Linked DNA regions of Homo sapiens: regions 1 and 3 are each linked to region 2. Evidence: fine-mapped expression QTL. A gene starts in region 2. Each other region holds a variant in brackets. All regions are shown on one strand. Distances are between the middles of the regions. Region 1 has its middle 13 kb from the start of DNAL1. Region 2 holds the start of MIDEAS (mitotic deacetylase associated SANT domain protein). Region 3 holds the start of PNMA1 (PNMA family member 1).

What was found. PIP is the estimated chance that this variant, and not a neighbour inherited with it, causes the effect.
Region 1: its variant is fine-mapped to the expression of MIDEAS in whole blood (TOPMed, PIP 0.98).
Region 3: its variant is fine-mapped to the expression of MIDEAS in whole blood (TOPMed, PIP above 0.99).

What each region holds. Positions count from the first base shown.
Region 1 is chr14:73,627,161-73,637,406 of GRCh38, reverse strand. It overlaps a transcript of HEATR4 not described here and the pseudogene NDUFB8P1. Among named protein-coding and RNA genes, the nearest start is that of DNAL1, 13 kb to the left of the region's middle. RefSeq lists an enhancer at 4,030-4,079. The variant A/CA (reference allele first, on the strand shown) is at 5,245.
Region 2 is chr14:73,754,907-73,765,152 of GRCh38, reverse strand. It overlaps MIDEAS (mitotic deacetylase associated SANT domain protein), which reads left to right and starts at 4,850. Exons shown (of 13, transcript NM_001367710.1): 1 at 4,850-5,390. It overlaps MIR4505 (microRNA 4505), which reads right to left and starts at 6,406; the gene lies at 6,334-6,406. RefSeq lists enhancers at 2,582-2,881, 2,483-3,004, 3,005-3,527, 4,443-4,772, 6,833-6,882 and 3 more and silencers at 5,193-5,432, 5,563-5,712, 6,073-6,182, 8,493-8,787.
Region 3 is chr14:73,712,014-73,722,259 of GRCh38, reverse strand. It overlaps PNMA1 (PNMA family member 1), which reads left to right and starts at 7,876. Exons shown (of 1, transcript NM_006029.5): 1 at 7,876-10,246. The coding sequence starts at 8,621. The coding sequence ends at 9,682. MIDEAS (mitotic deacetylase associated SANT domain protein) reads left to right here. Exons shown (of 13, transcript NM_001367710.1): 11 at 751-963; 12 at 2,759-2,955; 13 at 3,252-7,138. The coding sequence ends at 3,417. RefSeq lists enhancers at 2,835-3,445, 7,411-7,480, 8,421-8,480 and silencers at 7,701-7,980, 8,161-8,330. The variant C/G (reference allele first, on the strand shown) is at 4,074.

The DNA.
Region 1 (10,246 bases), 130 kb after region 2:
TCTAAGTTTAAGTCTTTCATGGCTGGAGGTAGATCTTCATAGCCAAAAAATGGCAAAGCAGAGTAGCAAAACCTCAACAAGCCAGGAGACTTGCTCAAGATTCACTTAATCCTCCATCACCAAATATATCAATGAGACCAGCAAAAGGACCATCATCTATAACCCAGGAAAGGGAATGAATCTTGGGTTAGATGACAGAACATTTACCTAGCCAACATTTTCTAAATGAAAATTAGATTGTATAATTTATCTTTTTTTAAAAAAACTACCTACTTGCTTTGAAAAGAAAACATCTGTTTTGTGGAAATGGATTTATTATTGTGGTTGAAATAGACATTTATTTGAGCTATTTTGATTCTATAAATGTAAAAATATTTTTATATTTTTTTCCCTGTGAGTTAATCACTGGTAAATGGAAAAAAAGAAAAAGAAAAATCGCACCAAATATATGGGAAGTGTTTTGGTTTGAAGTACAAGTCCTGATAAGTCTAAGCAAATAGTTCTGCAAGCTTTGAGTTATGTAAGAATAAAAATCTCCTTTTTTTTTTCTTTTTTTAGACAGGGTTTCACTCCCATAGCCCAGGCTGGAATGCAGTGGCATAGTCTGGACTCACTGCAACCTCCACACCTCCCGGGCTCAAGCAATTCTTGTGCCCCACTGCACCCTGCTAATTTTTGTAGAGACAAGGTTTCTGCCATGTTGGCCAGGCTGGTCTTGAACTCCTGACCTCAGGCGATCCACCCACCTCAGCCTCCGAAAGTGCTGGGATTACAGGGGTAAGCCACCGTGCTGGCCGGATGTCTGCTTTTGTTTGTTCGTTTGTTTGTTTGAGAGACGGAGTCTTGATCTGTTGCCCAGGCTAAGGTACAGTGGTGCGATCTCAGCTCACTACAACCTCCACCTGCCAGGTTCAAGCGATTCTCCTGCCTCAGCTTCCCAAGTAGCTGGGACTACAGGTGTGTGCCACCATGCCCAGCTAATTTTTGTATTTTTTAGTAGAGACGGGGTTTCACTACACGTTGGCCAGGCTGGTCTCAAACTGCTGACCTCAGGTGATCTGCCCGCCTCGGCCTCTCAAAGTGCTGAGATTACAGGCGTGAGCCACTGCATCCGGCTGGATGTCTGGTTTTTAGCATGAGATTTTTAAAGCCAGGTACAGTGGCTCATGCCTGTAATCCCAGCACTTTGGGAGGCCGAGGTGAGCAGATCATTTGAGGTCGGGAGTTCGAGACCAGCCTGGTCATCATGGTGAAACCCCAAAAACCCATCTCTACTAAAAATACAAAAAACTAGCTGGTTGTGGTGGTGCATGCCTGTGATCCCAGCTAGTCGGGAGGCTGAGGTGGGAGAACCGCTTCAACTTGGGTGACGGAGGTTGCAGTGAGCTGAGATCTCACCACTGCACTCTAGCCTGGGCAACAGAGTGAGACTACGTCTCAAAAAACAAACAAAGAATCAAAAAACAAAAACAAACCCAGACATCCAAATTTAAAGGGCCCTTTGATTTCTCAATAAATTTAAGATATAGTCAGAGTCACCAGAATCCATAATTTGACAGGGATTAAACTGTTTTAAAGGTCTAATGAAGGTGTACTATAAAATGAACTACATGTGTGAAGAGATAGTAAAATGTCAAACTAATATCCTCCCAACGTTGGTCTATTATTTCTCTTTCAACAGTCCTGTTGGGGATGTTTTATTCCTTCACTATTCCAAGAGAAGAATTTATCGGCCAATTGTTTCCTGGTATTTTTCAGATATATTCCTTTGTTATTCCAATTAAAGTAAAAGTGGCTGGGCAGAGTGGTGAGATCCTGTAGTTCCAGCTACTTGGGAGGCTGAGGTGGGAGAATCGCTTCAGCCCTGGAAGGGAGGTTGCAGTGAGCCGTGACAGTGCCACTGCACTCCAGCCAGGGTGACAGAGTGAGACCCTGTCTCAAATAATAATAATAATAATAATAATAATAATAATAATAATAATAATAATAAAGCCAGGCTCAGTTGTGTGTGTCTGTAATCCCAGTACTTTGAGAAGTTGAGGTGGGAGGACTGCTTAAGGCCAGGAGTTCAAGACCAGTCTGGGCAGCATAGCAAGACCCTATCTCTAAAAAAACAAAAAGGTTAAAATGAGGCCATGTACGCCTGTAATCCCAGCACTTTGAGAAGATGAGGTGGAAGGATCACTTGAGCCCAGAAGGTCGAGGCTGCAATAAGCTATCATGATGCCATTGCACTCCAGCCTGGGTGACAGAGCAAGACCTAGTCTCTAAAAAAATAAGAATTTAAAAAAGAAAGATGGCTGGGTGTGGTGGTTCACACCTGTAATCCCAACACTTGGGGAGGCCAAGGTGGGAGGATCGCTGGAGCCCACGAGTTCAAGACCAGGCTGGGCAACGTAGGGAAACCCTGTCTCTACAAAAAATAAAAAAAAAATTTACCTGGGTGGCACATGGCTGCTGTCCCAGCTACTCTACTCTGAAGGCTGAGGTGGGAGGATCGCTTGGGCTCAGGAGGTTGAGACTGCTGTAAGCAAACAAAAGCATTTAATGCTAGAAACTTTGCAGCAATCTTATGCTTAATATAGCAAACACGCAGGGTCTATGCTCCTAAGGAATAGCGTATGCAGCACTAGGACTCTGGCGGGTGAGCAGCTGGCAGAAGAAAGGTGCATAAGCAGATGAAATTTGGATCCTAGCCACCATCTAGGGGAATGAATGTTCCACTTGAAGTCTAGGAGACAAAATAAAGGGATTAAGGAGCTCGCTTTGTTTTCAGATGACAAACCAGCTAGCAAAGCAAGCCAGTCGATTCCCTCACTCTGCTGTCAGGCACTCTGCGGAAAAGGGCCCCCGCACCTGATGGCAGCAGGAAGACCCCCCGCAGGCGGCCGGCTCGCAGGCGCGCGGCGCAGCTCGGGGATGGAGAACCAGCGCTGCACCTGGGCCGAGGCCAGCGCCGGACTCAGCGGCGCCGCCTGCTGCAGCGGCGTTAGGTGGATGGTCACCTCCACTATGAGGGGGTTTTTCAAGGCGGCCCTCCGCATTCGACTGAGGCGTGGATCCTTCGAAGCGGCCGGCATGAGGCTCCACAGGAGCCCCATGGGCCCCACGCCCGTGAAGTCGCCTCCTAGAGCCAGGTCCCCGGCCAGGTCCAGCCCCCCGCCGCTGTCCACCTCGTAGTGGGCAAGGGAGTGGAAGAGGCGGCCTCGGTGGCTGACGCCCGACACCTGCAGGGTCACCGGCTCCCCCGAGCCCAAGCCTTCTGCTTTCATATCCAGGCACTTGTCGGCCAGCCCAGTCTTGGGCGTGACGGTCAGGGTCGCGGCCTTTTGGGAGAAAAAGGACGATGTGGATATCGGCCTCCAGGCCTGGAGGGGGACCCCAGAGGCTCGGAGCGCTGCCCGGACCGCCGGCCACATGGTCCGGGACTGTCGCGGCTTTGACCTCCGCCAAGGTCGAGGCGGCCTGGCACTGGCGGCCGAGGTTCCGCGCTGAAGAGGAGGGAGGAGGGGGGCCCGGCCTGGCAGGTCGTGGCCCTGTGGGGCAAAACCCTGCAGGGCCACGTGATGGGACCTGGGCTGGTCCCTGCGGCGCCACTTAGCAACGGGCTGCAAGAAGAGACGACTTCGGAGGGCCCAGGGTCCTTTGAGCTCCTAGAGGTCCCGTGTGGAACCATCTGGAAGAGGTAGGATCCCCTCGCGAGTTTACCCCGGACGTGTGGCGAATAAAGTTAAGCATTTTTAACGGTAAGTGCCGGCCTCTGGCCGCCTCTGAATTTCCTCACTGGCCACCAGGGGTCAATATTCCCTAAGCCTGATTGAAGGAGGCCAAGTGTGCTAGGGTCCTAACAAATTCCTTTCCTCCGTTTTAAGTAATCTTTGTCCTGGATTAAGAAAGACTATCAAAGTTAAAGTTTAAACGTTTCCGATGAGATACTGAATTGAACTATAAAATAGTAGGGATTGATAATAGAAACTGGTGGAGAGACACTTCCCCAACTTGAATGCCAGCAAAGACCTAAAACGAGCCCAGCGGGGACATAGGGGATGAGCTCAGGAGGGAGCATAAATTTTGCTTTTTCATTCAGAAAGTGGAACTACAGGACAGCCCGCAGTGGCTCACGCCTGTAATCCCAGCACTTTAGGAGGCCGAAGCGGATGGATCACGTGAGGTCAGGAGTTCGAGACCAGCCTGGCCAGAATGGTGAAACCAAATCTCTACTAAAAATTCAAAAATTAGCCAGGCGTGGTGGCAGGCACCTGTAATCCCAGCTACTCGGGAGGCTGAGGCGAGAGAATCGCATGAAACCGGGAGGCGGAGGCTGCAGTGAGCCGATATTGTGCCATTGCACTCCAGCTTGGGGGACAGAATGAGACCCCATCTCAAAAAAAAAAAAAAAGAGAGAGAGAGAGAGAGAAAGCTGAATTACAGATATATACCCTAAGGAAATAAGTTCTATTGTCCTGTGGACTGGAACAAGTGTTAACAATGTATATTTTTTGTATGCAGAAGAAAAGCTTACAAGTATATTACATTTCTTCTTCTTCTTTTTTTTTTTTTTTTGAGACAGGGTCTCACTCTGTCACCCAGGCTGGAGTGCAATGGCGTGATCTTGGCTCACTGCAACCTCCACTTCCCGGGTTCAAGTGATTCTCCTACCTCAGCCTCCCTAGTAGCTGGGATTATAGGCGCAAACCACTGCATCTGGCTAATTTTTGTATTTTTAGTAGAGATGGGGTTTCACCATGTTGGCCAGGCTGGTCTTGAACTCCTGACCTCAGGTGATCCCCCTGCCTTGGCCTCCCAAAGTGCTGGGATTACAGGCATGAGCCACTGCCCCCAGCCAAGTATATTACATTTCTGTTTTTTTAAGAGAGAGAAAAGGCCTTGAACCCACAAAATAAAACCATAGTTTTTCATTCATACATATGAATATTGTATTTTGTATATATATACAAAATGGTTCTGGAATGGTTCTGGAAGGAAACACTTCAAACTGGTAATAGTAACTACCCTTGGGAGAAGACTGAGATTGGGTAATGAGTTAAGAGGACCTTTTATTTTATCTGTATTACTTGAATCTTTCACAGTGAAGAAAGTATTGATATATGTAATTTAAAATTTGTTTTCCGGCTAGGCATGGTGGCTCATGCCTGTAATCCCAGCATTTTGGGAGACAGAGGCAGAAGGATCACTTTGAGGCCAGGAGTTCAAGACCACCCTGGGCAACATAACGAGACCCCC[A/CA]TCTCTACAAATTTCCTTTTCTTTTTTTTTTTTTAAACCACCACAGCACTGAGTTTTATTAGGGATTTCATTAAGGTTAAATTTATAGGAATGAGGGAGTCTTAGTTAGAGGGCGCAAAAGCCCACAAAGCCTCCTGGTATCCATAGTCAACCACTGGCTCAGGTTCTTTGGAGAGATCGCCACCTTGTTCCAGGTACAGATTATTGCAAGGACACTGTTTTGGTCCCACGGGCTGGTAGACAGGGTAAATCACCCCCACCCAGAACATGAACATCATGAAAGCCACAGAGCCGAAGAGCTGTATACACATGATATTCCAAGAAACAGGTGTGGGGGACATAGCTACATGGTTCCTGATATGCATGTCTAGGTGCCAGTGTATCCCCAGTTCAACCTCAGGCCAGGTGGTCTCAGTTATACCACAGATCCCTCTTCTGCTATAAGTGGTCAGGGAGCTTCAGGTAGTCCCCATACCCCATGCCGTCATTCGAATAAGGCTCGTAGTCTTCCACACACATATTTATACTTCTTGGTGGCAGCGACCCGTTCTTCTGGGGTCTTAGGTTAGGGCCCCGGGAGCATGCCCTTGGTAATGTGGGAGGCTGTCTGTGCACCCAGTGGCATCACATTCTGGGATGCCCTTTGCGGCCACTAGACTCCCAGGACCCCAGCCCTGGCCGCCACTACCTTCACCTACTACATTTTTTCAAATAGCTGGCCATGGTGGCTCATGCCTGTTGTCCTAGCTACTCAGGAGGCTGAAGTGGGAGGACCACTTGAGCCCAGGAGTTAGAGGTTGCAGTGAGCTATGGATTGCACCACTGCACCCCAGCCTGGGTGACAGAGCAAGACCTGGTCTCTAAAAATTAAAAAAAAAATTGTTTTCTACTATTCTATCTTAATTAAAACGCATGTGTAAAATGAGGTGAATTAACCCAGGTGAACATATTTTATTAAACTGCTTGTCAAGGAAGAGGGGTATGTATATAAATCCTAAATTTGGGGAGAAACAATCCCATTTTCAAATCTTATCCCATTTATCTATAAATAATTGTCATGTGTCATATTTCTGGATAGAATGTATTTGCCACTGAAAACACATGGCCATTGGACCAAGAGTTTCTGGTTTAGAGCCATCCAACAACCCTGTTTTCTTTGAAAAGTAAGTACCTGCAAGGTACTTTTCTCTGAAAAGCAAGGACTTGTTAAAGTCCTGTCTTTGGTCCTTTCGCCATAAATATTGTTGGGGCTCAGAGAACAATACCCCAAAATGAAGGCCTCAGAAGGGAAAGTTTTTCTTTGCCCTTCTCCTGCCACCCTGCTCTGAGTCCCATTCTTCCCTGAGGCTAGCCATAAAAACTAGAATCCCTTTTCTTCCAGGCAGATCATAGAAACCAGAACTCCTTTTCCCTAAAGCCAGTGATAAAACCTCAAAATATTACTGTAATTTTCCCTCTGCCTTTCTGTGTAAAAATTGGCTGTAAACAAATGATCTGATCTACCTTATTTGACTGTAAGTCGTGATTCCCATTCTAAAGAGGGACCGGCATGCCCCACACCCAGAAGGAAGGAATGAAGCTCAGAGAAGCCAAGAAGAATCTAGACAGACAGGCCTTGCTGGGTTTCCCCACTCAGCTTAGTAGCATTTTATTGGGGGAGCGAACCACTATGGTGGCATGGGGTAAAAGAATTTACCAAGACAGTTGTAGGTAAAGAAAGGCAGATTTATTAGAGAAAGTAGGAAAATACGTTGCGAGAACGTTGCAACAGGCAGGCCAGCAGAAGAGAAGTTGACTGCAAAGAAACAAAGGCTTGCTGGGGACTTTATAGAATAATGTTTATGCTGTCTGTTGAAGAGGGATTTGTGCAGTAGCGATAACACCAAGGTTGCAGTGAGCTAACTTGGAGGGGTCTGGTGATAGTTGGGCGGAGGAAGATTATCAGTTATTTGTGCAGGAGGGCTGTGTCCTGGACCATGAAGAAAGGCAGACTGGTAGCTTATCTGCGTCTTCTTTTTGCTTTCCCCTGCTCCCACCAGCCTGACTCCCTTTGTCTAATTAGGACACCACGTACCCTTTTTGTCCAATCATATTTCTTTTTTTTTTAAATTTTTTTGTTTTTTATTTTTTATTTTTTTTGAGATGGTGTCTTGCTCTGTCGCCCAAGCTGGAATGCGGTGGAGCCAATTTAAAATGATAAGAAATAAGTAATCTGGGGCCGGGTGTGGTGGTTCACGTCTGTAATCCCAGCACTTTGGGAGGCCGAGGAGGGCGGATCTCAAAGTCAGGAGATCCAAACCATCCTGGCTAACACGGTGAAACCCCGTCTCTACTAAAAAAATACAAAAAAATTAGCCGGGCTTGGTGGCGGGTGCCTGTAGTCCCAGCTACTTGGGAGGCTGAGGCAGGAGAATGGCGTGAACCCGGGAGGCAGAGCTTGCAGTGAGCTGAGATTGCACCACTGCACTCCAGCCTGGGCAACAGAGTGAGACTCCATCTCAAAAAAAAAAAAAATCTAAACTTTCCACCTTGGGTTGTGAAGCTACATCATGTGACCCTAACATACCATTAACTTTCTTATAGTCCCCTTCATGCAGCTCTGCACTCTTCCAGTCTCTCCTCAAGCTGGAAGGCACTAGAGCCAAGTGGTCAGTGAAGGCATGGGCTTTGGCCTTGGACTGACTTAGCTCTCCCACTAACCAGGCATGTTTCTTCTCTTGGATCTCCATTTCCTTATCTGAAATAATAATTGTTAATACAGGGATACCTGGGAGATATTGCAGATTTGCTTCCAGACCACTGCAATAAAGCACATATCACAATAAAGTGAGTCACATGAATGTTTGGTTTCCCAGTGCATATAAAAGGTGTATAATATACTGTAGTCTATTAAGTTGCCATAGCATTATGTTTAAAAAAAGTACATACCTTAATGAAAAAACACACCTCTGCTAAATAATGCTAATGATTATCTGAGACTTCAGTGGGTCGTAATCTTTTTGCTGATATTTTTGCCTCCATTTGAAGGCCACAGACTCACTAGGGTGGTGGTTGCAGAAGGTTGGTGTGGCTGTGGCAATTTTTTTTTCTTTCTTTTTTTTTTTTTGGGAACATACTCTCGCTCTTGTTGCTCAGGCTGAAGTGCAGTGGCGTTATCTCGGCTCACTGCAACCTCCACCTCCCAGGTACAGGGAATTCTCCTGCCTCAGCCTCCCAAGTAGGTGGGATTACAGGCGCCCACCACTATGCCCGGGTAACTTTTTTGTATTTTTAGTAGAGACGGGGGTTTCACCATGTTGACCAGGCTGGTCTCAAACTCCTGACCTCCGGTCATCCACCAGCCTCGGCTTCCCAAAATGCTAGGATTACCGGCATGAGCCACTGCTGTGGCAAATTTTTTTTTTTTTTTGAGATGGAGTTTCACTCTTGTTGCCCAGGCTGCAGTGCAATGGCCCGATCTCAGCTCACTGAAACCTCCACCTCCCGGGTTCAAGTGATTCTCCTACCTCAGCCTCCCAAGTAGGTGGGATTACAGGCATGCGCCACCACTCCTGGCTAATTTTGTATTTTTAGTAGAGACAGAGTTTCTCCATGTTGGTCAGGCTGGTCTCAAACTCTTGACCTCAGATGATCCGCCCGCCTCGGCCTCCCAAAGTGCTGGGATTACAGGTGTGAGCCACCACACCCAGAGGCTGTGGCAATTTTTAAAACTAAGACTATGGGCTGGGCACAGTGGCTCATGCCTGTAATCCTAGTATTTTGGGAGGCTGAGATGGGAGGATTGCTTGAGGCTGAGTTCAAGACCAACCTGGCCAACCTAGCAAGATCCCATCTCTATCAATTTTCTTTAAATTAAAAAAAATGACTATGTGATATTGTGAAATATATATTTGGTCGTAATCTTGTTTTGTGACATACAACTCCTAAAAGATTTAGAATCTCCAACGTGTTGTCTTTTGTGTGCTAATGAGTTGATTAATGGCTGGCAGCCCCTAGGTAGCTTCAGTATGGGGGCTGGTCACCAGAAACACCAAGGCAGGATTAAAGAATTGAAAGCCAGACACAGTGGCTCACGCCTGTAATCCCAGCACTTTGGGAGGCCAAGGCGGGCAGATCACTTGAGGTCAGGAGTTCGAGACTAGCCTGGCTAACATAGCAAGACTCCGTCTCTACTAAAAATATAAAAATTAGCCAGGCTTGGTGGCACCCACCTGTAATCCCAGCTACTCAGGAGGCTGAGGCAGGAGAATCACTTGAATCCAGGAGACGGAAGTTGCAGTGAACAACACTGCCCTCCAGCCTAGGCAACAGAGAGTAAGATTCCGTCTCAAAAAAAAAAAAAATTGTTGGGACTTTCAGCCCCACTGTAAACCTACCAAACCTGGGGAGGAGGGAAAGCGTTAGGGTTAAGCTGATCACCAATGGGCAATGATTTAATCAATCGTGCCTAGATGATGAGGCTTCCATAAAAACCCAGAAATGGGTTCAGAGATCTTCTGGATAGCTGAACACATGGAGGTTCCTGGAGAGTGACATGCCCGGGAGGACATGGAAGCTCTGTGTCTTTTCTCCCTATACATCTCCTTATCGGTGTCACTTGTAATATCCTTTATAGTAAACCAGTAAGTGGAAGTAAGTGTTTCCCAAGTTCTGTGAGTCACTCCAGCAAATCAAACCCAACAAGGAGGTCATTGGAACCCCAACGTGAAGCCAGTTAGTCAGAAGTTCTGAAAACCTAGACTTAAGACTGGTGGGAAGAGACTGGTCTTGTGGGACCTACTCCTCAACCTGTGGGATCTGATGTTATTTCCAGGTAGACTGTGTCAGAGTTGAATTGGAGGACACCCAGCTGGTGTCTGCTGCAGAACTGTTTGCCTGCCTGGTGTGTGGGGAGAAACCTCCCACATTTGGTCACAGAAGTATTCTGTGTTGATTGTTGCGTTGAGTGAGAGAATTGCACCAGGGATAGACTTCTCCTTACTAACTATGAAAGTCCTAGATG
Region 2 (10,246 bases):
AGCCAAGCTCCAGTGAACAGCCAGTGAGGAAGTCTGTCTGGGACTAGTTCTGCAGAGGGCATGGAACTGTGCTGAAGGGAGGCCTTTGAGAAGTTGGCAGCTCTCGGTCTGTGAAGAAAGGGCGTTTCAGTCCTGTGGCTCTGCTGGCCTGCCCTCCCTGGCAGCCACACCTGTTTTGTCCTTCTCCCTACACCCGGCCAGACGTCTCTCCCAGAGTGACAGCAGCAACTGGGGACATGTACAGAGGCTCCTTCTCAGGCCTGACAAAGGCACTCAGAACCTGGCCCAGGCCTGCAGGGCAGGGAGGCTGGGGAGGGGGCAGGTGGGAGGGCCAGGGACACAGACAGCTGTGGGCTGGTGTGGCAAGCATGGCCCTGCCCCAGAACAGGTGAAGTCAATGTGAGCGGAGGAGGAGGGTCCCCTGGGGTTTTTTCCAAGGATAAAAGAGAAGACAGTGCAGAGACATCTCAGCACACAGTGGCTTAACTTCATGACTGGGGTGGTTGTGAGCTCGCGGTTTGCTCAGAAAAGACCTGGCAAAAAGGGCTGAGAAGACACAGCTGGTGGAGGGGTGTTCCTACTCAGGCTGGGAGGACAGCCCTGTGGAAAAGTGTGGTGGAAAGGACACAAAGAACAGGCTGGGAGAGAAGCGTTGGAGGACACCCCTGATGAGACATTGAGTCAATGCCAGAAAAAGTCTCTCTAGGCAGTGCCCATGAGAGGGTTACCTGAGGCCCATGGGGTCTTTTCAGGGAAAAGAACTAGGTGGTTTTTTTTTGTTTTGTTTTGTTTTTTTTTTTTTTTTTTTTTTTTGAGACAGGGTCTCCCTCTGTTGCCCAGGCTAGAGTACAGTGGGGCAATCTGGGCTCACTGCAACCTCCATCACCTGGGTTCAAGCAATTCTCATGTCTCAGCCTCCCGAGTAGCTGGGACTACAGACGTGCGCCATCACACCTGGCTAACTTTTGTATTTTTGGTGGAGACAGGGTTTTACCATGTTAGCCAGGCTGGTCTCGAACTCCTGGACTCAGATGATCCGCCCGCTTTGGCCTCCCAAAGTGCTAGGATTACAGGCGTGAGCCATGACGCTGGGGCTGGAACTAGGTTCTTAAGAAGGGATAACCTAGGTTGGGGAGGAGATACAGGGTAAAACAGTAAAAATAATTAATTGTAGCCTCTTATATGTACATAGCATGATTGAGTTATAAAGCAGTTTTTTGTCCTTTTGATCCTCTCAAGCCCCTGGAAGGTGGGCATCCTTTCGTTGTTCATGCAATGAACACTTAAACAGTGCATCTGTTATGGGCCTAAAAAGTGAGGTTCAGGGAAGGTCAGTGACAGTTTTCCTAAGTCCCTGTGTTTTCTACACCCTTCTTTTTTTTCTGTTGTAATTGTAGGTAATGAGGTCCTGGAGGTTGTACTTTAGTTCTCTAGAGGGAAACGACAATAGGGACACAAGAACACAAGGGACATAGGGACCTGGCTGGCATTGTGGACTTGGGATGCCCTCAACAATATTTGTACTCCCAGTTCCCCAGGCTCTGGTAAAGGTTGGTTGTTTACTTAAACACACCACGTGTGCTGGCCTCATTGGGGGAGGAACAGTGGGAAAAGGACAGCAATGCAGGTATGGAGCCTGGGGAGAAAGACACTTCTCTTTTAAATAGTGATGATGGCTGCAGACTTATTGGAGGAAGGTGGCTGGGAGGTGAGAACCTGGCTTCCTTGGAAGCTTTCCCCCAACTTCGTAACAGCTTTATTGAGATATACTTCACACACCATAAAATTCACCCTTGGAAGATTTTCTTTTTTCTTGAGACAACGTCTCACCCTGTCACCCAGGATGGAGTGCAGTGGCGTGAACACAACTCACTGCAGCCTTGACCTCATGGGCTCAAGCAATCCTCCTACCTCAGCCTCTTGAGTAGCTGGGACCACAGGCATGTGCCACCACACCTGGCTAATTTTTGTATTTTTTTGTAGAGACTGGGTTTTGCCACGTTGCCTAGGCTGGTCTCTAAACTCCTGCGCTCAAGCACTCCTCCTGCCTCAGCCTTCTAAAGTTCTGGGGTTACAGGTGTGAACCACTGTGCCTGGCCTCATCCTTGGAAGATTTTAATGGTCTAGATACTGCTGATGAAACACAGGGCAGTGACAGACCGCTCTGAGTGGAGTCCAGAGAGCTGATGTGGCCCTAGGAAGCCTCTCAAATTTGCCATATTCTACCTTTATTGGGAATCAGAGTTTAGGATTCTGTCTAGGGTGCTTTATTTCCTGGAGTGTTTCTCTCTTGTCACACTCCCTGGTAACTGGAGCTCTGTACTCCTTTTTCGTGCAGTTTGTAAAGAGGGTTGAGGGTGGAGAAAATCCAACTCTGTGGATAAGGTCTCTGGAACACCTCCCCATTTCCCTGAAAGGTCAACCTTCTTGGTTGCCCCAGAGACTTGTAGCAGGGGCTGGAGCTTCTAAAACCAAAACTTTCACTTCACACGTCAGTGATTCTGCACCGTCATATCTGCAGCAAAACTGACCTCCAGGGCTTTCCCGGAAGCGCTGCAGCTTTCTTTACATAGCCTCATCTGCCCGCCTTTTTGAGGTAGACTTCTCCTGCCAAGGGGGGGCTATTTGGTATAGTCTTGAGCCCTCCTCCCCTGCACACATGTGTGCCCCTTTTCTTCTCTCTCCTTTCTTAGGTGGCCTGAATTTGGAAGTTTAGCTGTAGTGAAGGGCGGTGCCGCTCCAAGGTGAGCAAGGCTCCTTCAGGGCCACTGACTTCTCTGTTTCCCCTGCCACCTGCCTCCACTATGTATGCTGCTTCCTGGGCCACTCCTTTGGAGTGGCTTTCACCTGTTCCCTGAAGGCTGGGCCCTGGCTCCATGATGGCAGGCTCTTCTAGCAATGTGCTTCCCAGTCAGGTTTTCTGGTTGGTTGGGAACATCCCTGGGCTGGTCTGCACAAGCTCTTAGGGGCTCACTCTGGGCTGGCCTAAGGCCAACTGCAGGGGCTGGGCTCTCAGGGGAGGTGAGGATGGCCACAGGTCTGCAGAGGAACTTGGCAGCAGTGGGCACTGGAGACCAAATGGCTTTGCTTTTGCTTCCCTCACTTGGATGTGTTGTCAGTGGGAGGGAAGAAATCAGGCAAATGAAAAAAGTAAAAAGGCTCTACCCTGATCCTTTGCCAGGAGCCCTGAGAGTCTGGCCTCTGCTTGGGGGTCTGCAGGCCTGAGCACTGCAGTTCCTCAATTGCTCACTGCCTTCCTCTGGGGGAGGAGCAGAGAGGTCACAGATGCTTGGCTTGCCCTGTGACCTGGTGCAATTCACTTAACCTCTCTGAACCTCAGTACATCCACAGATTGAGAGAGATAAAACTCACATGCAGGGCTCTTCAGGAGACTGTATGGAGAAGTGCTCTGAGAGCTGCCAGGAACAATACTGTCATCACAGATGCTAAATCGGGGAGCCCGGGCTTTTTTTTGTAGAAGGTGGTTTCCCTAGCTCCTCTATTCACTTACTGTAATCACAGAATCATGGATCTTGAACTGGAAGGGATCTCAAGAGGTCCTCTGGTCCAGTCCTGTGGCATAATTACCTGTATTTTGTAGATAAGATTGTTTTAAGTGTTCCTTATTTTGACATATCTATCATAACATGGTGCAAATAAGCCCTTCTCCTCTTGGGGAGGTGTGACTTCCAGGTGTACATGTACGCAGGTGCTCCAGCCAGCAAAGAGGTGGAAGAGGACAGGAAAGCCATGCCCCCTTAGAAGCAAGTGCAGGTTTGGCAGGATTTCTGGGCAGAAGATCCAAGTTTTGCCTGTGTCCTCCACACCCCACCCTGGCCCTGTAGGCCCAGTGAGTGTGTGAGAATCATATTCTGCTGCCCCTCCCTCCTCTTCTCCCTGAGAAAGTGAGGGATGCACCTGGTTCTCAGGTCTGGCCACAGTGTTTTGAAAAGTGGCTGCCAGGACACATGGTATTCTTCGGTGGTTTTTCTTTCAAAGGAAAATCTCCTTGTGACCCATCTCCTTGAAAAACAGCCACCGCCACCACCGCCGCCGCCACCACCACCACTGCACCACCACCAAAAAACTTGGAAGGAAGAATAGGACACACTCCCCTGAACTTTCCCCTGGCCCTAGAGCCCCATTGAATGTGGGGGCCAGAACCAACCTCTTGAGCTGCAAAAATGTTTTCCATCTTCCCACCAGTCAGGCAAGGAGGCATCAAGGCCTGGACCTGAGAATTGATCAGGGGGATATTTAGGGAAGACAGGGGAAAATGTGAGTATGGAGTGAAAAGCCGCTCAACTCTGGCCTGAGTTGCTAGATTTAAATCCAGGAGATTTTCCTCACCTAAGCGATGGAGATGGTGGGTCCTTTCTAGGGACTGAGGCCAGTTTCTCAATAACCTTTACACGCACCAGGACGCTTTTGAGCCAGAAAGTGAAACTCGGAGAGTCTGTTAATAAAATGCCATGGAGAGGATTGTGCATGATTTACCGTATCCAAAACCAGAGAGAGTTTCTTTGTGGAAGAAAGCGACTTGTGCCTTCCCCAGCATCACACACACACTTTCCTGGCAGGCTCAATGGGTTTCCAAACATTTCGTCACCGTCTCCTCCTGACCTTGGTGTGAAAGGAACTAGCAGCGTGGCCCGCCAGCAAAGCCATCGGGGGCGCCAGCCTGGGCGGGGGATGGGGACGGCGACCGACTCGTGAGTGGAGGTGAGGTCTGCTGGAAATCCCCAGCCCCGGCCGCCGCCTGAGGTTTAAGGACGCCTTCCCCGGCCTTATTTGGTCGCAGGAAGTGGGCGGCGCCGGGCCTGCTGGCTGAGGCCGCCCCGAGACAGTTGTGCTGATGAAGTGGTAGAGCTGGTTCCTGCTCGCCGCGGTGCCGCGCGCGCCGGCCGGCCGCTGGGCGCTCCGCGCTCCCAGCCTCGAGTTGTGCAATCCTTTGTAGCACGCCAGAGTCCTCCTCCTCCGCTGTTGCCTCTCGCCCTCTCTCTTTTTTTTTTTTTCAAGCTGTGAGCTCAACCGATGAGTCAGAGCCGTGCAATCCTGACACTGCATCGCAGGACTGGGGGTGACACGGAGGGAGGCAGAGCGCTCGCGAGGCGGACGGCACGGGTGCGGGGCGCGCCGAGGCTCCTGCATCGCAAGCGGGGGGTGACAGCCCGCGCGTCCCGCCCGGGCCCTGCCAGCAAACTTCTCAGCCTCGGGAGGCGCGGGCTGGCGGAAGCCCCGCGAGCGCCGCGGGGAGGCGACGGCGCCTGTTTGTTTTTAAAATCGGGAGTGCGTGCAGGCGGCTGGAGTCCCGGAGGCGACCGAAGGCGGCGACCCGCGGCGGAAGGGGGACAGCCGAGCCCGGAGCCCGGAGCCCGGGCAAGAGCTGGGTAAGTGGGGCTGCCTGGCCGGCGGCCGAGGCCTGCACGCGGCGGGGCCGGCGAGGGGACCCCAGGCGGCGCGCGAGCTGTGGCTGCTCGCACGGCGGGTTGCAGCTCTGCAGGCGCGGCCCGGAGAGGGGGCCGCGGGGGCCGCTGCGCTCGAACTTCTGCGGCCTGGGCGGCGGTGGAGCGGGCGCGTGTGGCCGTGCGGGGGCCGCCTGCAGCCCGCCGCCCCCTCCCCCGCGGTCCGCGCCCTCGGCCCGCAGCTGCGTGTGCAGCGCAGCCCCGCGGTGTTTGTGCAGCTACGCAGCTTGCGCGCGGCCCCCGCCCACCCGGGCGCGGCCCCGCCAGGAAAGCCCTCCCCACCCGGCGGCCCGCGGCGGCTCGGGAATCCGGCTGCTCCTCCTCCGCTGGAGAGAAACGTGGTGTCCGTGGGGACCGGCTGACGTGACGGAGCCCAGGCCCGGAAGGCGCGGCGAGGGGCTAGCCAGCTGAGGGAACTTGGCGCGGGAGCCCCTTCCCCTGCCAGCGTGCACGGGAAAGTGGGCCTGGACGCGGCGTCCACGCCAGGAGTTTGGGGGACAGAGGTGCAGGGGCGTTGGGGAACTGGGGCAAATGCAGTCAGCAGAGGCCTAGGCTGGAGCGCTTCGCGCGGGCGGGCGCACCTCAGACCTGTCATCCTCCCGCGCGCCCCCGCACGCCCGCGCCGCCGCAGCCCTCCCAGCCCGCGCGGTGCCTCGCGGGGAGCTGTGTTCCCTGGTGCCTGGCGGCAGCGCCGAAACCCGGGATTCGGCCGGGCCCTGCATATGGCCGGCTTGGTGGAGCTGGTCACGTCGCCTCCCAAGTCGCACATGCAGGACCATGTGTGTCAGGTTGCCCCCAAGGCCTCTGGGTAAAGGTCTAGGGGAGGAAGGGGAACTTCGTGTGCCCTGGGGCCTTCAGGCTTCAGCCCCAAGGCGGGCCGACATGGAGGAGGTACCTGCCACAGAAAGTGGAGGCCGGGTGTCCGTCCCAGCCCAGCCTCCAGCGAGAGCTGGTGAGAAGATGAAAGGGGAAGTTATATGCCCCATTTAAAACTTTGTTGGTCACAACTACGGTGGCTGCTTCCTGTTTCCACCATCCCACGTGGGACCTGTGTGCCAGCCTGTGGAGCCTCGCGCGGGGGGCGGTGGGATGGGGGAAGAGAGGCTGGCCACGGAGGCCCCGGTGGCCCGCGTATGCAGGGGATCCCTGTTGGCAGCTGCGGCTGGGGGAGGGAGGGGATGTCTGGCTTGCTCCAGCAGGGGGAGCCTGGCCAGGTGATCTGGGATCTTCTTGTTCCTGTAGCTTCAGGGTTGAGACTGAAGGCCTAGTGAAGGTGGACCGAGAAGCCAGTCCTCCCTAGGGGGCCTCAGCTGAGGGGAGAAACCACCTGTCTTGCTCTAGAGCCTCCCACCAAAGGTGTGGCACACGCCCCTTTTGGATCAGAGAAATGCACCCTTTCCTTGGGTGTTAAGTGGCTTCAGAACCCAGGGAAAAGGAGAAGCCTTCCCGGGTTGAGAATTCGTAGGTCTTCCTTTTCCAACTGCTCTGGACAGTGAATAATAGGAGCGTAAACATTCAATTACTGTGATAAACCATCTCGTTGCATGGCCCTGGTCCAGTCTCCACTCTAATTGGATTGGCCTCTGGCTGGTTACTCTGGTCCGTGTAGCTCCCGGGGGGACAAGGGGGTGAAGAACCTGGAGGATGCCCCCAGGTCATACAGCTTGCCAGCTTGCTCTGGAACAGCCTAGCCACTGCCAGTGTGGCCTCTCCAAGTGCCAGCAGAACCCCCACTCCCGTGACTCTGTCAGCTCCTCACCCCGCCCCAGGAAAGAGCGCCCTGGAGTGCCCATGGGGATGAGAATTTAATTTTTACATGTGGGATTTTAAAATAGCCCCAGTGTTTGACCCTGTGTGCTGCTGCTTTCAATAAGTGGAACACAAGAAAAGACAACATGCAGTTGTGGATTCAGCTGAGGGCCTCCTGTGTCTAGAGTCCCCAGAGAAAGGCTGCCCAGGGGTGCCAAGACCTCTGACAGAAGAGGGGAAGGGGAATGGGCCCAGTCCAGGAATCTTCAGGTTGAGAGCCCCTCTCTTGCATTTGGGTCTCCCAGAAGAAAACTTTGCTCATGCTGGGGTGGGGACAGCCACAAAGTGGCTGGGGGTTTCCAGCTTATCCTTCTAATCCTGTTTCAAATGCCACTTCTGAAGGCTGTAGCCATCTTCTGAACACTCATTTCCACCTTATGTAGTTATTTGTGTACATACTGCAGTGTGGTGGTCAAAAACAAAGACTCTGAGTTAGAGTTCCTATACAGTATCTCCTTCATAGAGTTGCTGTGAGGATTCTGTGAGTTAGTATACGTAAAATGCTTAAAGCACATTTCAGTATTTGGTAGCCTCTGCTTGAATGGGTCCCACAATGCTGCTTGGCATCTAGTAAGTGTTTAGTGTTTTTTTTTTTTTTTGGTTGTTAGAGATAGGGTCTTTCTCTGTCGCCCAGGCTGGAGTGCAGTAGTGCGATCTCAGGTCGCTGCAATCTCAGCCTCCTGGGCTCAAGCAATCTTCCCACCTCAGCCTCCCAAGTAGCTGGGACTACGGGTACACATCACCACACCTGGCTAATTTTTCTATTTTTGTAGATATGGGGTTTTGCCATGTTGCCCAGGCTGGTCTTGAACTCTTGGGCTCAAGAAATCCACCCACTTTGGCCTCCCAAAGTGCTGGGATTACAGTCTTGAACTACCTCACCTGGTCTTAGTGCATGTTAGTTGAACAAATTAGTGAAAGATCTCCATCAAAAAAAATGTGTACTTGTCATGTGTTGGGCCCAGTGAGTCCCTGCTCCTGGAACCTCCTCAGATTGCATCACTGGTTTCAAAAATGTCAGTCCACCGTGGGTGATTCTGGGGCTGGTGAACCCAGTTTCCTGGCACTGCCCTGTAGCTGGCCTTGTGGAGTGCATGTGTCGGTCATCCTGACCCTAAGGGGACCTCAGGGTGAAAGAGTTGTGGAGCCATCTCCCTAGGGATCTGCTAGCCTGGGCACTTCCTTTGGTCAGCCCAGATTGGCACCCTTCCTGTGTGTGTGCAGGCGTGCATGCATCAGTACAGAAGCAGCCTGGGGCTCCATTCTTCCCTGACTCACTGCAGGTGGCAGGAAGCAGAGCCAGTGGCCGCATTCTGTTGGAGGAATTGCTTCTTTCTGCACATGAGAACTCTTGACTCTGGGACTGAAAAATTGCATGCTGGGCCGGGGCTAGGGTGGAGTAGGCTGAAATCCCCAATTCTTACTAAGGGACCTGCATTTGCATTCGAAGCAACATTCAGGATACTGTGAGACTATGAGCTCATTTTATGAATCAGAAGCATTACAGCATAACTTTAATGTTGGAAACTGCAATTTGGAATCCAGATCACCCTCCCTCCACCTCAGCGCGCACGCGCGCGCGCACACACACACACACACACACACACACACTGACATGGGCTCTCGCAGTCACACACTTGGGAGCAATAATAGTTGGAGCATCAGTTCAGATTCTGGAGGCCTCCAGCAAAATTCATCCACACCGACTTCTGCTTCCACACTCAGAACGCCGTTCCTGGATGGTGTGTGGACAGTCACTTGGGCAGTGACTGAAGGAAGTCTGATGGGTGCGTGGGAATGAGGCCTGGGCAGACCTGAGTTCATACCCCAGCATCTCCTCTTGCTGTGTGGCTTTGGGCATTGCTTAACTTCTTGGGCCTCAGTTGCCTCACCTGTAAAATGTGGATGATACTAGTACTTCATAGGCTGTGAAGATTAGACAGGATTATGCATGCAGAGTGAATGACACATACTAGGTATTCAACAGATGGCAACTCTCATTTCACCAGTTCCCACTGGATCCAGTGTGTTTGCCTTTGACTCCTATCAAGGAAGAGAAAATGAAGGGTGTCCTGTTTATAGTAGGAAAGCAATCTACCAGGCCACTGAAGCTTGTATAAATGAAGTTTATTGTGCCCTGGGAACAACAGCTTGATCCACTCCACCCTAGACATGTGGCCCAGACCCAGTGTCTGTGTGCCTTTGAGAGGGACTGTGGCCCTGCAGCCGAGGGTTGAGGGCCCAGCTTCCCAGAGATCAGATTGTGCTCTCAGGAACCTACCCGCCCAGGCCCCAGGCTGAGCTGCTCACGTGGGTGGGCAGGAGGAAGGCTGCTTTCTCAGCCAAGGAAAAAAAGTCCCCTGTTTGCTTCACCTGAAGCCTCGCAGTGTGACCTCGCAGGAGGTTTGGGTAGAGCCAAGGGTGGGAGTTTTTCCTTAAAGACTGCTTTGGCTCTTTTACCCATTAAAATTATGTGCAACGGTGAAGGAAACACCAAGAATTATATAAGAAGAAAGTTGCCACTGTCAGAGGAGAGCCGGAGTTGTGCTGGGGTGGGGCTGGGGGTCTCCCTGAGGGCTGCAGTTGCTGGCTGTCATTCTCGGCTGGTGGGGAAGAGCTGGTGGGGAAGAGCCGGGGCTTGGGGCTGAGGCTTCCCTGGCAGCCGCCCTTGCTGTTGCTCTTCCTGGAACACAGCCTCGTGCTGTGGCCAGCCAGGGAAGGTGCTCCCTGTTCCCTCTGCCTTTCTCCCAGCCGCAGGGAGCTTTCGTGGTGAGAGCATTTTTTCCAGGCAGTGCTTCTTCCTTCAGGAGTCCTGGGAAGGAAGGAGAGTGGGGAAAGCACAGGGCAAGGTTTATCCCAGTTAAAGCTTGGATGGAGAGAGTGAGCTACAGTAGGCTTGTAGCTGGCCAGAAGGGGCTTCTCTCTAAAGCCGCTCAGCTTCTCTGGGGAATTGGAATCCAGACAAGAAGGAA
Region 3 (10,246 bases), 43 kb after region 2:
GTTTTATATCACAGTGATAAATAGAAAACCAAGGTTGTGTGCTATAAATAGAAGGTACTGGTAAAAATATATGTGAAAACCAGTATTACTGAATTCTAGCTAGATGCTGTGTTACCTGCCAAGGCTGAGACTGAGGGCTGACCTTGCTTTGTTAAAGAGATTATCAAGTCTAGAGAAGTATAAAAGACACATTAGCAGCAACCAGAGACTGAGTCCTTGGCATAATCAGGATTGAAAGAGAATTAAAAGGGAAGGTTACTTAATCCTATGTCCATGTATCCACCTAGCATCATTTTTGGGATTGCAAATCCACGCTTGGTGACATGCTACGGTAAGACAGGGAGTGGTTTGCTGCCCATTTTGCAGGCAGGAAGGTAGTAGAGCTACAGAAAGCATTACAAAGATAGTTTGGAATTGGAACTCAAGGCTTCTGCCTGGCTCACCACATCATTGCCGAGGATGCCTCCTGGTCATCTGTCCAGGAGGATGGGTGGCAATGGGGAGTGACTGGTATGTACCCTCCTTGCCCCTCGTTCTCTCTCAGGTGCTCCCAGGGCTTGAGACTCTTCTGTCCCCATGGCTACTATGCCATGGGGACAGAGTCCAGAGTCCTAGTACAGAAGACTATGCTGGGCCAGCCAGGCGAGCAGGACTAGCTGGGGCTGGTGAACCCCCCGGCCGGGTCAGAATCTGTGCTACAGCAGTGAGACAGAGCTCTAGGCTCACTGCCCTTGTTCTTGTTCCCCATAGACTTCCCAAAAGTTCCCAAGGGTGCCTCTTCCCAGAAGAGAGTCCCCAAGTGAAGAGAGGCTGGAGCCCAAGAGGGAGGTGAAGGAGCCCAGGAAGGAGGGGGAGGAGGAGGTGCCAGAGATCCAAGAGAAGGAGGAGCAGGAAGAGGGGCGAGAGCGCAGCAGGCGGGCAGCGGCAGTCAAAGCCACGCAGACACTACAGGCCAATGAGTCGGTGAGTGTGACCACCATGGGCTGAGCCCAGGGCAAGCAGGGTGGAGCTGGGCCTGGGGGCGTGGGAGGGAGGGTAGAGCAGGACTGTGATCCTCATTATAATCATAATAGCAGGAAATGTGTGAAGTACTTTGTGCTGTTAACTCATTTAATCCTCACTACCCTATGTGGTTAGGTATTACTGTTATTCCCATTTTATAGATGGGGAAATTGTGGCCCAAGATAACACAGCTAGTAGGCAGCCTGAATCCAGAGTCTGCGATTAATTTTTATACTCTACTGCTTCTGTATCTGAGATTCAGAGGGAAAAAGGTTTTGTGAAAACCCAGTAGGTATGTGGGTCACTGAGGGAGCATTGGTGGTTTGCAGACAGGGCTCCCCTAAGAGAGCCAGAGTCCCTGACAAGAATGAGACTGAGCTGAGACCATGGGAATGACAATCATAGGCCCTCAGGCATGATCTCTGCAAAGTGCTTTCATTTCCATTATCTCATTAGTTCCTCACACTGCAGAGTTAACCTCTACTCTGCAGATGGGGGAAAGCAGTTCAGAGATGCTAAGTGACTTGCCCCAGGTCCTTGGACTCCTAGTGCAGTGCTCTGTCCACCATATCACAGGCCAAGAAACAAGACTACTGGCCATAGTTGCTCCTTGCCAGGGAGAGTTCTCCCAGAAAGGGGTAAGGAGGGGAAGGGGTTTATTGGGGAGCTGCTGCTTTTTTAGAGTCTTTTTTTTTAGAAATGTATGTAGTAGGCCGGGCGCAGTGGCTCACACCTGTAATCCCAGCACTTTGGGAGGCCAAGGTGAGTGGATCACCTGAGGTCAGGAGTCGAGACCAGCCTGGCCAACAAGGTGAAACCTCATCTCTATTAAAAATACAAAAACTAGCTGGGCATGGTGGTGCACGCCTGTAATCCCAGCTACTCCAGAGGCTGAGGCAGGAGAATCACTTGAACCCAGGAGGTGGAGGAGGCGGAGGTTGCAGTGAGCCAAGATCATGCCACTGCACTCCAGCCTGGGTGACATAGCAAGACTCCATCTCAAAAAAAAAAAAAAAAAAAAGGAATGTGTGTAGTACACTCATGCTTACAGAGCTCCCATAAACTGTAAACACACGGCTGTGTGCCCACTTCTGAGCCTCGACCACCTGCACCAAGAGCTGTGCTCTGTGTAGCGCTCTACAGAGTTCTGTTGACTTTTGTGAACTTTCCCATGAGGGTGCCACTTCTGATGGCCACCCGGGGCTTCCCCAGCCGAGGTCACCTCTGCTCCCTCTGCTCTGCACTCTGACCCCTGCCCTTGCCCTGTTTGGTGTCCCTGCAGTGCGCTGTCCTGAAGTAGCTACCTGCGCATCTGTCCCTTCCACCAGATCCTCAGCTCTGAGGGCAGGGATGCCTGTGTCAACCTCTTTGTCCCTAGCATCTGGCCCATCACAGGGGCCTGAATCTCATTTATAGAACAGGGCATGAGCGGACTAAATGACAGAAAACATCAACAGGTAGGTGCTTCATTAACCCAGAGACCAAGATCCCCTGTCAGGCGCATCAAGGCCTCTAGCAGCTCGGGCTGCCCCACAGAATTACTCTAGCAGCAACTTTGTAAACGATAGAGCTGACCAGAGATGCAGAGTTGGAGGAGGCAATGGTCGTCATATCCCTGGAAGGACCCAAGTGCATGCTAGGTGACTGTTTGGCAGGAATATATATGACTTTTCAGGCCCCCGGTTCCCTGCGATTTTAGAATTCCAGATCTGCGCTTGCTCAGATCACTCAACTCTCCTTGTTTGATTTTCTTCAGGCCAGTGACATCCTCATCCTCCGGAGCCACGAGTCCAACGCCCCTGGGTCTGCCGGTGGCCAGGCCTCGGAGAAGCCAAGGGAAGGGACAGGGAAGTCACGAAGGGCACTACCTTTTTCAGAGAAGAAGAAAAAAACAGAGACATTCAGTAAGACCCAGAATCAGGAGAACACTTTCCCCTGTAAAAAATGTGGCAGGTAAGGTGGGCAGCGCTGTCCCCGCTGGGACCCCCGCGGGCTGGTGCGCGGAGGGGGCGGGGGTGGGGTGGAGGGGAGGGGGAAGAGGTACAGGCGGTGTCCGCCTCGTTTCTGGTTGGCTCAGCGGGTTTCTAGGGCTGTGACGTCATGGGGCAGCTTTCGGAAAATGACGCGAGCTGGCCGGCCGCGGCTGTGCAGCGTGGGGGTGAAGGTGAAGGCTGGGGCTCCTCGCGCACCCGCGCTGGGGGCCCCCGGGTGGGCTAGGCCGGTTCTGAGCAACCCCCACCCGGCTGCAGGGTGTTTTACAAGGTGAAGAGCCGCAGTGCGCATATGAAGAGCCACGCAGAGCAGGAGAAGAAGGCTGCAGCGCTGAGGCTGAAGGAGAAAGAGGCCGCTGCTGCCGCCGCCGCCGCCCACCAGCAGGCCCTGCGGGAGGAGAGCGGTGCGGGCGACAAGGGCTGAGCGCGGGAGCCAGGCTGGCCCAGTCCTGGGCCTCGGCCCTTCCCGCACCGCCGCCAGCGCCCGCAGACACCCTGGCATCTCAAGAGGGAGTGAGGAGAGGATTGCAGGGACTTTTCCCTGCGAAACAAATGAGACAATGACATAAACGGCTCTTTTATTTATGAAGGCCCTGGGAGCAGCGTTAAGGGCTCCAGGATCCAGCTCTCTTTGCATTTGGTCTGTCGGAAGCTGTCCTCGTGCTTTCCTGGACCGGGAGAGTCCCGGTCCCCTCGGGAGGGACTCCACCGCCTCTCACACTCCGATTTCTGCTGCTCTGCTGCCCCGCAGTCTTTTCCCTTTATTTGCTTCCCCCTCCTCCCCTCGGCCTCCAGGAAGCCACCGTGGCCGGCCAAGCACAAGCTCACCCACTTTGGAGCAGCATTTCTCCTCCCCAGAGGACCTCGAAGGCTGCAACGGCCCTGCCCCAAGCCCCAGAAAAAGAAACTCTTGGAGGGAGTCTGCGGGCTTCTCTGAGAAGGGGCGCAGCCTGACACCTGTGCTGTCCCTGCAGTCTCTAGGCCTGTCTGAGCTGCTCCCGTGACCGTGTCCTGAGTGGCCACCTCCTCCTTGGGAGGGAGGCCGCGGCAGGTACTCTCCCTTTGCTGCTTGCTGGCGGC[C/G]TTGCTAGGGCTAGAAAGTTTTCTCAGCGTTGGGGGAGGGGCTAGCGTTCTTGTCCAAAGCACTCATCCTGCTGCAGGGAAGGGAGCTGTACGGAGGCTGGAAGCTGCAGGGTTAGGCCCGAGAGAGCTTTTGACAAGCCTGGCTCTTCCTGCTTCCCACCTTTTTGGCTGAATACCTTTGGGTCCTGGAGGCTGCCAAGGGCGCTTCGCCTTGAGCAGGTCCCGGAGAGGCTCAGCCTGCCCCTCCTGGGGCCAGCCTCCTTGCCTCTGCTCTGACCTCAGCAGCTACACCTAACCCCACCGCACCCTACCCAGTGTCGATATCCACAACCCAGCCCCCAGGCCTGCACTTTGGAGATTTCTGGATCCTTCCCTGGGAGGGAGAGGTCTCCTAACTCGATTGGACAGGAGCCTTCATTCCTTGACTCGTGTCATTTGGGAGCTATTTATTTATTCTTAGTATTTAATTTTTAACATCCTCTCAGGGACCAGGGGCCTCCTGCTTTTCAGAGGCCCGAGTGCATTTATCCCAAAACGAGGCATCTTGACATCCCCTATCCCCACCCCCTAAATTCCCAAGGCCCTAAGGTCCCTCACCTGGTTGCTCTGGAAGCTCTTGCTGATAGGAATGATAGCAACACTGAAAGAGCGTGGGAAGGTGGAGGGTGTCACCAGACCCACACAGAGCAAGGGAGATTAAGGCAGTTCTTGCTGCCCCTTCTCTGGCTGTGCTTTGCCTGAGGGAAGAGTTGGCAAGAGGCCAGAATTCTAGTTTGGTTTATGGGGCCTGGATTCTGGCTTGAAGAAGCCATATTTGGCATGGGTGAAGTGAAAGGGCCAGGAGGTTCTGGAGGCCCCTTCACTTCCAGTCCCATAGCGGGGCTCAGCTATTTTTCTGATCTTATTCAACTTTAGTTGTGCAAAAGAAATTCTAAGTGAATGCGCGTATGACAGGTCAACGTATTAGGAAGGAGCCAGAAAGTATTCATACTGCTACTCCTTATGAGATAGCCAAGAAGCATCATGTCAGTAACTGGGAGTGGAGAGGGAGTTTTGTTTTGAAACTATGCAGGTATTTTTCAGCATCCATTTGTACATTAGTATGGTTCTACAGGACCCCAGCTGTGGAAGTAACAAATTTCTTCTCCCTCCAGACTCTTGGATGACTACCTAGATCCCCAGCTTACCGGTTAGTTTCCTCCACAGGCTTCCATGAGCTCAGTGTCCCAAGACAGCAAAAATCTGGTATACCCTGTAGAAGCAGGGGGGTAGCAAATTTAGGCTCTCTTCGAAATTACTTGTACAATACGAGTGCCTTCGCAGCTTAGCCCCAAAGTGCTACTTATGTTTCCCAAGGTCTTTTCTATTCAAATCATATTTGGTTTCAGGCCCCTTTATGGGCATACGGTAACAGAAACCTCCATCATTCATATGAGACCCTTTTGTCAGTGGTAACATCTTGTACTTGGAAAAAAAATTTTTTTTTTTTTTTTTTTTTTTTTTTGAGACAGAGTCTCATTCTGTCGCCCAGGCTGGAGTGCAGTGGTGTGATCTTGGCTCACTGCAACCTCCGCCTCTTGGGTTAAAAGAATTCTCCTGCCTCAGCCTCCTGAGTAGCTGGGATTATAGGCACACACCACCACACCCAGCTAATCTTTTTGTATTTTTTTTTTTAGTAGAGACAGGGTTTCGCCATGTCGGCCAGGCTGGTCTTGAACTCCTGACCTCAGGTGGTCCACCCGCCTCGGCCTCCCAAAGTGCTGGCATTACAGGCGTGAACCACCGTGCCTGGCCGGAAGTCTTTAAAAAATAAAGTGATTCTACTCTTCTAAGCTTACAGAGACCAGACCAGGTGAATGTAACTGGGGAAAATCAAGATGGTACCTCTCTGCATTATCCCGCCAGACACTGTATTTTATGCATTCATGTCTAGGATACAGTGTGAAAATTAAAAAGTTTAGAGGGCAGATGCAATTGTGGCAAGTGACCTGCCAATAAAGCAGGTGCAGCTATAGAAGCTGGCATAGGTATATCCTTAATGGTGCTTTCTCCCTGGGCTTGTCTTTTTGTTGTTTTTTTCCCCCTATATTCAGAGCTCCTTGAGAAGTGATAAACACCTCCAGCTTTCTAACATCCTCCCCACACCATCTCACCATATCCATCTCCCAGCATCCATCTGCATTCAGCTAAGGGCGGGAAACTGACCTAGTGCCTGTGTTGCAGACCATTTCTGAGGTCTCCACCATCCAAGGAGGCACAGCCGTCATTACTGTCCTCCATGCCTTCAGCAGCCCCCCTCACAGCTAAGGTACATACCACCCCTTCTGCCGCGCCTCCACCCCTGGCACCAAGGTCTTCTGCTGCTTATGTCTAAAGGGATCACCTATATTTAACTGCCTCAGTGACCTAACCTCTTTCTTCTCATGTGCCAGATGTTAAGATGAAGGAGGAATACAACACATACTCAAGCCTCAGCCTGTTTAGTTGTTTTCACTGGGGCTCGCTTTTCTGGGACGGTATTTATTATCAGACTGGCAAGCCTAACTCCATAGGTTTACAGGAAGTAGGGATATTTTTATAAAACAATTGTGTCCTCCCCACATTTTGCTATGTTAATATTTGCTTCTAACAATTTGCAGCTGTTTCACTTTTTCCTCATTTGTCTCTAAGTTGAAGGCTTTGTTGGAGGGGACAGAGCACAGGAACAGCCTTGACAGTCTGTAATTATTGTACAGATATTTTAATAGCATATAAATAAGTATATTCCTTTTATTTTGAAACAAAAATGATCAGACACTGCCTTTTGTGTGTTTGCTGCCTGTGGCATCCTTTTTTAAAAAGACTGTTACATATTAAAATAGTGTACATATATAAATATTACCTCTTTTGCTGTACAGTTGTGATAGAGACTGAAGATTTTATTTTTTGTGTGCTTTTTATAAGAAAAAAATTAATACACTAAAGAATCTTGCTGATGTGATTGTAATGTACCTATGTAACTTATTTACTTTTGAATGTTCTTCTGTATCTTTAAACCTTTTATTAAATAAGGTTTTAAAAATTCAGAGTTGAATGCTTTGTTCTCTTGGGATTTTCACCATCTGGGGTTGATGTAAGTGCGCCTTGTCTTGCTTGCAGGGAGATTACTCGACATTTTTGAACCATAAGGATTCTCTTTTAGCAGCCTATTGTCAATGATGCCAGCCAGGAAAAGGAAAATAATACACTAATGTTTGCCTGGCTAAAAGATGACTCAGTAGACACAGACAGATTTTTACAAAATTTTAGACAAGAAAAAGTCTAAACTCAGTGTCTCACACAAATACACAGAAATGGCGCACTCCGACATTTTGGCTTCATTGGGATGAAATATGCAGGGTGCACAGTGTGGTCAGGGGCAACGGGAAGCCAGGGTTCTGAGGAGAGTATTTTCACGTGCAGGGTGGACTGGCTGAGCAACCCGAGTAGACAAGTCCACCATGAGGGATGCATTTCCAACAATATCATCTTAAATCCACTCCAGGATTGGGTTATTATTTTTAAAACACGGTGCTTAGTAGTAGTTGTTTACTGTTAAAATGCTAAATTATGAAAAAGGAAATGCGCCATCAGAGAAACAAATGCCCGAGCCCCTCGCTGGCTCCACGGCAACCGCTCGACCCCCGCGAGCCGCCGGAGCAGGCGTGCCTCGCGCCGGCTGGGACACCGTTGCCATGGAGACGCCCGAGCAGCTCCGCCGCGGGGGCGGGACGGGGCGGGGCGGGGCGGACGCCGCTCGCCGGCTGGCCCCATCCTCCACTGCAGCAGTAACGTCGCGGCGGGTTGCGGGTAGGACTGGACGCCAGAGCAGCCGCGCAGCGCCTGAACCGCTGCGGGCCGCCGCGGCCGCCCCTTCCCACCCTCGCCTCTGCTGTCTCCAGCCTCGCTTCTCCGACTTTCCTGCTCCTCTGCTGCCTTCGTTTCTGGTCCTCGGCCGTCCTCGCCGCCCGCCCAGAGGAGTCCCCGCGCCCGCCAAGAAGCCGCTTTCCGCTGGCCCGCAGCCGCCGCGACTTCGGCACAGTTTCTCCCTCTGGCTAGTCTCCCAAACGGCCGCTCCTCGCCCGCGGGAAGACCAGGCTGCGACCGCGAACGCCCGATCCTCTCCAGGAGCCGCAGCGAGCGCCCGGCGGCCACGCCCCGCGACCACACCCCGGCGGCTCTCGGCCCAGCGCGCCTGCCTTCGCCGCCCGCCGTCGCTCCTCGCCCGCTGCACGACGACGCGACGCCCCTGCTGCAGGCGGCGGACCCGACCGGACCCAGACCCAGACGCAAGATGGCGACGGCCGCGTGACTGCCTCAGCGTCCCCGAGCTCGGCTCCGAGTGCACCTACGGACTGACTGTGGGGGCAGAGAAGGGCGAGATCAGGACTCTGTCTTTGTTAATCGTGACTGCATGAAGGTCGCCTCCCTCGGGCCTACTTGGTGGGAGTGTCTGGTATTGTTCTAAGGCCAGGAGCACGGTGAGCCACAGTCTGTTGGTAGAATTTGGCGTCTTGATAGTTGAGAAAATGGCGATGACACTGTTGGAAGACTGGTGCCGGGGGATGGATGTGAACTCCCAGAGAGCTCTGTTAGTCTGGGGCATCCCAGTGAACTGTGATGAGGCTGAAATCGAAGAGACCCTCCAGGCTGCGATGCCCCAGGTCTCCTACCGAATGCTTGGGAGAATGTTCTGGAGGGAAGAAAATGCGAAAGCAGCCTTATTAGAGCTCACTGGCGCTGTAGATTACGCCGCGATCCCCAGGGAGATGCCGGGCAAAGGAGGGGTCTGGAAAGTGTTATTTAAGCCCCCAACTTCTGATGCTGAATTTTTAGAAAGATTGCACCTCTTCCTAGCTAGAGAGGGGTGGACCGTGCAAGATGTTGCCCGTGTCCTTGGGTTTCAGAACCCTACTCCGACCCCGGGCCCAGAGATGCCAGCAGAGATGCTAAACTATATTTTGGATAATGTTATTCAGCCTCTTGTTGAGTCCATATGGTACAAGAGGCTGACACTTTTCTCGGGGAGGGACATCCCAGGGCCTGGAGAGGAAACCTTTGATCCCTGGCTGGAGCACACTAATGAGGTCCTAGAGGAGTGGCAGGTGTCCGATGTAGAAAAGAGGCGGCGGTTGATGGAGAGTCTTAGAGGCCCCGCCGCTGATGTTATTCGCATCCTTAAGTCCAACAACCCCGCGATAACCACTGCCGAATGCCTGAAGGCGCTTGAGCAGGTGTTTGGGAGCGTTGAGAGCTCTAGGGATGCCCAGATCAAATTTCTGAACACTTATCAGAACCCGGGAGAAAAATTGTCTGCTTATGTCATTCGTCTGGAGCCTCTGCTACAGAAGGTGGTAGAGAAGGGGGCCATTGATAAAGATAATGTGAACCAGGCCCGCCTAGAGCAGGTCATTGCCGGGGCCAACCACAGCGGGGCCATCCGAAGGCAGCTGTGGCTTACCGGGGCTGGGGAAGGGCCAGCCCCAAACCTCTTTCAGTTGCTGGTGCAGATCCGTGAGGAGGAAGCCAAGGAGGAGGAGGAGGAGGCTGAGGCCACCCTTCTGCAGTTAGGCCTGGAAGGGCACTTCTGAGTGCCAGGAAAGGCAGCTTTAGTGCAGACCTAGATCACAGCTACTTTTCTTGTCCCTGTGGGGTCTTACAGATGTGTCTCTGAGTAGTAAAGGCTTAGCCTTGTTCTGTTTTGTTGTTTTTTGGAGGGGAAGGTTAGTCAGGCCTGAGTATTCATGTAACATTCTAAAATTGTGCCAGCGAGCACCGTGAACGACTGCAATGCAAGCGGGTCTTGCTGGCTAAAATGCCAGGTAAAGGGTTGGTTGGACACAGCGCTTAGTGCACGCTGTCATCATGGACATCATAATCAGTTGTGAAAAACACGCGAACCTATGACACTTCTTATTCCACACTGAATGTGAAATTGCATGTTCAGATGTTTACTACGAGGCCTGGCTCACAGGAAGTGTTCAGTAAAAGTATGCACTGTTAGATTACTGATAACGCGGATAGATTTTTGTTTACCATAAATTGTTCCAGATTTATATTAATGGAAGGAAGTGTGCATTTATTAGCTATTACTCAACTTTACAATGCAAACATCTTATTTCTCATCTTTAAACATGTCGACCAGTTTAATTGAA